2 linked regions of the Homo sapiens genome follow. The protein of the gene in region 1 purifies or fractionates together with the protein of each later gene. This does not show direct contact. Each region holds a gene or a part of one and is shown on either strand. Other genes may lie near its edges.

The links.
Region 2: the proteins of FRMD4B (region 1) and RNF146 purify together in Homo sapiens (affinity purification with western blotting; one study listed by BioGRID). This does not show direct contact.

The regions. Positions count from the first base shown.
Region 1 is NC_000003.12:69,180,089-69,183,588, forward strand, and holds part of FRMD4B (FERM domain-containing protein 4B), read right to left. Parts: intron 2,630-3,500; coding exon 2,510-2,629; intron 1,623-2,509; coding exon 811-1,622; intron 1-810. UniProt on the Homo sapiens protein: Member of GRP1 signaling complexes that are acutely recruited to plasma membrane ruffles in response to insulin receptor signaling.
Region 2 is NC_000006.12:127,276,864-127,280,363, forward strand, and holds part of RNF146 (E3 ubiquitin-protein ligase RNF146), read left to right. Parts: intron 1-3,367; 5' UTR 3,368-3,475; coding exon 3,476-3,477; intron 3,478-3,500. UniProt on the Homo sapiens protein: E3 ubiquitin-protein ligase that specifically binds poly-ADP-ribosylated (PARsylated) proteins and mediates their ubiquitination and subsequent degradation. May regulate many important biological processes, such as cell survival and DNA damage response.

The DNA.
Region 1 (3,500 bases):
ATGAATACTGAATTACAATATGCATGGCCAGGCACTGCGGCTCTCACATGTAATCCCAACACTTTGGGAGGCCAAGGCAGGAGGGTTGCTTGAGGCCAGGAGTTTGAGACCAGCCTGGGCAACATAGCAAGACCCAACCTAAGCCTCCTTGTTTCTACAAAAAAAAAAAAAAAAAAAAAAAAGCAAATTACTTAGAACAGTGCTTAATCAATGCCAGCTCCTATAAGGATTCTTACGAGCCTTATGCAGGCACTTGCCTAAGTACCTGCATAATCCCAGGCTTGCATTCAAAGCAGTCCTTAGATGATCAATCTTGGTGGTGAACCAGGAGGGATGTATAATTCTAATGTTTTCTGCTTACCTGAGGGTTTATTCTTTTAAAATATCAAGCCTCAATGACGTGAACACATTTAAGAGATGTGCCTGTCAACGTAAATCCTAAAAAGACAAAGCAAGTGAAACCCCTAACACATCCCAGCCTAGGCGACAGAGTGAGACTCCTTCTCAAAAACAAAAAACAAAAAACAAAAAAAAACCCTAAAACAGGGCAGCACAGAGAGTAAATGCTCAATCAATGTTTGCTGGATTTGAATCTACAATTTGCTTCATTAGACTCATGTGTACTGAGTTCTTTGGAGAGCTGGAAAGAACTGTTTTTAAGTTGGAAATTCTTATTGTGGGGTTCCACCGAATGGTTGCCCCACTTTTGACCCTGAGTACTGGTCTCATGATCCGTGAGGCGGTTTTAGGTGGGCAGGAAACACGATGTAAATAAAATCCAGGTGTTGCGTGTTTTTACAGTATTCTCACCTGAAGAGTACGAGGATGCACGACTGCTTGGAGAACAAGGTACTTGCAGCCCCGCAAACCCCAGGCATCTCTGTGATCCCCTGTCTGAGTCAAAGCTGGTCTGCGGGCTGTGTCCCTGATCCTTCTGCCCAGAGGCCCGCTGGTACCAGCCACGCAAGTGCTCGGCAACTAAGGCCTTGTGGATGTTTTTGGTGATGTGCTCCGATTTTGCAGCAGCCTTCCTTGGCAGCCGGAGAGTTGCATATGGGTTATGGGGTACCCGGTCGACCTCATCTTCGTGAAAGGATCTGCTGTAGTCCCTCTGGCGCTCATATCCATAGTGGGCTGAGGACCGGTAGGAAGGGTTGACACTATACTGTCCCTCGGTGTCATTCTCATAGACATAACCACCACTGTAATAAAAGTCACACTCTGCATAGGGTGTGTACCCGGCAATGTAGTAACTGGAAGACGGTGGCTCCTGACTCTTTGAGTAAACACCATTCCTCAAACTATCCTTTTGTGCTAGGTTGGGCATGCTTCCTGAATTTGAAGTAGAAACATTCTGTTTCTTTGACCTCCTCCGACCCCTGGTGCGAGTGTCCAGGGTCTGGGTGGTGTAATAGGGGCCGGTAACTGGTGTCACACAGTAATACTCTGTGCTTGATTGGCTTGTATAAGAAGACCCGTCATCGAGGATTTCTGTGCTGCTGCTTCTTTGGGATTTGGAGAGGGAGAAAAATGGCTTATCGCTGTCCATCTCGGAGAGCAGGTGGGACTGGGACTCCAGGCTTCCACTCCGCTGGCGGCAGTGCTGAGATGAAGATTCGGGTCTGAAAGAGGAGAAAGGCAAACTTCTCAACACCAAGAAGAAAAGGAGGACCCAAATAAGAAAAAAGAATAGCATGCTGAATGACTGAATAGCTCGTGAATTACAATAGGACTTTGAGTTGCCAAAGCTGACTGCACAATAGAATCCATTGTTCTCCAAATCTGTTGGCTCACATGTAGGTTCATTTTGACCATGGTCAAAATGAGAAAAGAGCTGGCTTCTGTTAGTTGCGCAAGCCAAATCCTTCCTTGAGGGTAGGGAAAGACACAGACTGAGGATGCACAGTTTGCATCACAGCCTGGAAAAAAAAACAAAAACAAAAACAAAAAACCCAACGTGTCTTTGGAGGGTCCTGTCTTCCTAGAGGATATGAAGATATGGTACATTCGAGTGGAGGTCAGAGGTGGCTGGGCTGAGTCATGGCACTGCTATTTCCCAGCTGTATGAGCTCAGGCCAGATATTTAACCTCTCTGAATCTTGCTTCCTCCTTTGTAAGATGAGGATGAAAACAATATATAATATCTACCTCACAAAAGGCTTGCTGTAGGGACTAAATAATCCAGTGAATATAAAACATTTAGCACAGCACTCACAAACATTTCAAAATGTTGCTATTGTTACTAACTTCATCCTCACCATTGAATAATGAATGGTAATATGTGACTGGGGAAATTAAGGTACTAAAAATCTAATGTATATTTGAACAAATCAAATACATTTTCTTTGCCAACATATTTGAAACCATAAGTTAGCAGAAAATGTAAAACCATAAAACAAGGTCCTGCTACAGAAAGTCACTTGAAATGATTAAAAAACACAATAAAGCAAGACAGAACCTCAAAGCAAAAATCAAGACAGCTAAAGCAATGAGAAAGAAGCTCTCTTACTCCAAGTGGCTGCTGCTGTAGGCGTTTCGGGTAAGAACTGGCGTGGTGGGCATGCTTCGTCCTCCCTGGGGCCGCCTCTCCAGAGTTTTGTAAGGGCTGCTGTGTGTGGACAGCATTTCTCTGTGATGATAAAAAGAAGAATTCAGGAAATGATGAGTCTCTCAACATCTCTGGCAAACTTGTCATAAGCAGATACAAAACTTACTAGAAGCCCAAGGAAAGGGAAAATAGGGAGAAAGATAGGAAGAGTGTCTTTGTGGTTCACTAAACCACAAAGAAAACCCGCTAAAACAGCGGGAGCACATATGGTCTGACTTTCTGAGTCACAAATATGTAGGGAAAAAAAGGACTTTTAATAAAGAGTACACTGAATAAAAAGACTCAAAGCAACTAGAGCTGTTTATGTAGGCACCTGAACATTCAAAACAGTCCTTAGATGATCAAATCTTTGTGGTGAACAGGGATGGATGTATAATTCAGCAAACTCCTTTTTTGTAAACAGTCTAGAATACTAAATAGCTTTTGGCTTTGTGGGCCAGATGGTCTCTAGAGCGACTACTCAGCTCTGCCCTTTCAGTGCAAAAGCAGCCATGGATAATATGTAAGAGAATGGGTGTGGCTGTGTTCCAAGAAAATGACCTATGGATGCTAAATTTCATATCATTTTTACAGGTTGTAAAATATTATTGCTTTTGATCCCCCCACCACCAGCTACCTAAAAATATAAAAACCATTCTTAGCTCACGGTCTGCGCAAAAACAGGCAGCAGGATGGATTTGGCCACTGGACTGTTGTTTGCTGGTCCCTGGACTAAGAACAACAGCTTTAAGTCACTATGTCTACTTCCCAGCATGGTGACAACACAATTAGAAGTTAATTTTTTTTTTTTTTTTTTTTTTTTTTGAGACTGAGTCTTGCTCTGTCGCCCAGGCTGGAGTGCAGTGGTGTGATTTTGGCTCACTGCAAGCCCCGCCTCCTGGGTTCACGCCAT
Region 2 (3,500 bases), on another chromosome or scaffold:
GACTAAAGCATGAGTACCACCTGGGGTGAGATTCCTAGGTTTAAACCTATGTCTACTGGCCTAGAATTTCTAAGGAAAGGGGCTGAGAATATGTATTTCTAACAAGCAATTTCAGTGATTCTGATGAATAGAAGTTGGGACAAGTTTAAGAACCTGTGCAATAGGTGTTGGATGGTTCATTTTCAAGGCTATTTAAATAGGCTGATAGTCATGTCAGGAGTTAGGATGAAGAGGATGATCAGTAGTGAAAAGATGACATTAATCCCTTACAGGTGGTGAGAGAGCAGTTTTAGGGGATTATGGGGTATGTTAAAGTCAGTGTGATAGAGACTTGAAAGAAAAAGTAATGATGTTGGAGCAGTAAATTGTCTCCTCCTGTCCTATATATAGGGAGTGTATGAAAATGTGCAGTTTTCTGTTTGGCGTAGGCTGCAGCAAGGAAATGAACATAGCCTTCTTTGATGCCATTGAAGTTGTAGGCTCCTTGAAGTTGGTGAAAGGGTTGAGAGGAAAGTCAAAATAGTGGAGTCCATTTCATCTAAAGTCAGAGTAAAACAAAAAGGTTACTTAGAAACCTTGTTTAGTCAGTATATTAGGCAGTGTTCTCTAGGGGGACAGAACTAATAGAATATATATATGAGTTTATTAAGTATTAGCTTACACGATCACAAAGTCCCACAACAGGCTGTCTGCAAGGAGCAAGGAGAGCTAGTCCGAGTCCCAAAACTGAAGAACTTGGAGTCTGATGTTCGAGGGCAGGAAGCATCCAGTACAGGAGAAAGATGTAGGCTGGGAGGCTAGGCCCATCTTTCTTTTTCACATTTTTCTGCCCGCTTTATATTCACTGGCAGCTGATTAGATTGTGCCCACCAGATTAAGGGTGAGTCTGCCTTGCCCAGCCCACTGACTCAAATGTTAATCTCTTGGCAACACCCTCACAGACACACCCAGGATCAATACTTTGTATCCTTCACTCCAATCAAGTTGACACTCGGTATTAACCATCACAGTCAGTTACTTTTGAAAGTTCTCTGATTTTAAAACAAATTGTTTGTTCTGTTAAACATTTGGTAGGATAAGTCAGCTTGTATTTAGGGGCCACATAATGGCATTAAGAATATGTTTCTTTAAACACTAGAATCTTAAGATACCGTAGGGAGATAGATGCCCATAGTATGAGAGCCACATGGAAATAAAAGAAGATTGAAGTCTCCTCTATCTTGTGTTTACTGTGAGATCTATCATTTCTTTAGTTATCATGTGTTCTTGATTATTCTGTGTAATATGATGTGCGTCCTGTAGTGGACATGGTGAGGTGGAGATGGAAATACTAAATGAGAAGAAAGAAGATTAATGACTGAGATGGTACAGGTTTTTAAGAGTACAATTCCATGTAGTTAATTTCATTTACAATGTTATGCAACTATCACCATTATAGATTTTCCACAACTTTTTTTTAGCATTACAAACAGAAACTCTGTACCCATTAGGCAATAACTCTCCACTTTCCTTCCTTCACTCTCTGGTAACTTCTGATACCTTCTGCTTCTATGAATTTGCCTATTCTTGATATTTCATGTAAGTGGAATCATACTTTTCTGTATGTGGCTTATTAGTATGTTTTCAAGGTTCATCTATATTGTAGCACATATTTCTTTTTATTACTGAATAATGTACTGTTGTATTTATAGACCACATTTTGTTTATCCATTCATCTGTTGGTAGATACTTGAATTGTGTCCACCTTTTGCCTAATATTTCCGCAGTGAATATTGGCATACAAGTGTCTGAGAACCTCTTCAATTCTATTGCTATATCCCTGGGAGTGGCATTGCTGTGTTAGCTTTTTGAGGAAGCAACAAATTATTATTCACAGCAGCTACACCCTTTTACCTTCCTACCAGCAGTTTTCAAAGGTCCTATTTTTCTACATCCTCACCAACACTTATTATTTTTCCCTTTAAAAAAGTTGTAGCCTCCTTATAGATGTATCATTGTGATTTTGATTTACATTTCCCTAATTACTAATAATGTTAAGGATCTTTTTGTGTGTTTATTGGCCATTTGTGTATCTTCTTTAAGTTCTTTACTCATTTTTTGCTCACTTTTTAATTGGTTTGTCTTTGTTGTTGAGCTGCAGTTCTTTACATATTCTGGATATTAAACCTTTATCAGATACATGATTTGCCAAGATACTCTCCCATTCTGCAGTTTGTCTTTTTATTTTCTTAACAGTGTCTTTTGATGCACAAAAATTTTAAACTTATATAAAGCCCAATTTATTTCCTATGTTTCTCATGCTTTTGATGTCATATCTAGGAATCCATTGCAAATCTAAGGCCATGAAGATTTGCTCCTGTGTTTTCTATTAAGAGTTTTATGGTTTTATTTCTTATATTTAGGTTATTGATTCATTCTGAGTTAACTTTTATATATAGTATACGGTAGAGGTCCAGCTTAATTATTTTGCATGTGGAAATCCAGTTGTCCCAACAACATTAGTTAGAGGTGCCTGTTTTCCCCCATTGAGTAGACTTGACACCCTTTTGGAAAATCAGTTGGCTATTGATGTATGAGTTTATTTCTGGACTCTCAATTCTATATCATTGGTGTATTTATCTGTCCTATGCCAGCACCAAACTGTCTTGTTACCTTAGCTTTGTAGTAAGTTTTGACATTGGATTTTTCAAGATTGTTTGGGTTACTTAGGGTCCTTTGCAATTCCATATGAATTTGAGGATTGCTTTTCCATTTCTGCAAAAAAGGTTGTTGGAATTGTGATAGGAATTATGTTGAATCTGTAGATCACTTTGGGTAGTATTGTCATTTTAATATGTTAAGTCTTCCAATCCATACATCACTTGTCTATTTACTTAGCTCTTCTTTAATTTCTTTCAGTAATGCTTTATAGTTTTCTGTGTACAAGTCCTTCACCTCCTGGGTTAAGTTGATTCCTGGCTATTTTATTCCCTTAGTTACTTTATGAATGAACTGTTTTCTTGATTTCTTTTTTGGATTGTTGTCTCCTGGTGTATCAGAACACAACTGATTTTTTTGTGTGTCAAACTTGTAACCTGCAACTTTGCTGAATTTGTTTATTAGCTTTCTTGGGGATTCTATGAGATCTTCTATCTAGAGAGAATAGACATAGTTTTACTTCCTCCTTACCCGTCTGTATGCCTTTATCTCTTTTCCCTAATTTGCTCTGCTAGAACTTACAGTCATGTTGAATAGCAGTGGTAAAAGCATGCATCTTGTCTTTAATTTTTCCCACTTTTAAGATAAAGTTTTCCACTGAATTTTTTGAAAGGATTATACATAATTAACTGATTCTCTTGATCTTAATTACTCTTTTTTTCTTTTGCAGCACAAAGAATGAACCAGCAGTGGAAGAGAAAATACTGTAAGCTGGCTGACTGCTGGTGAAGAAAATGCTTTATTTTTGTGGCAGGCATCTGTGGGATCTGTAATAGAAATGTAAGTGTAGCATCATGGTTTTT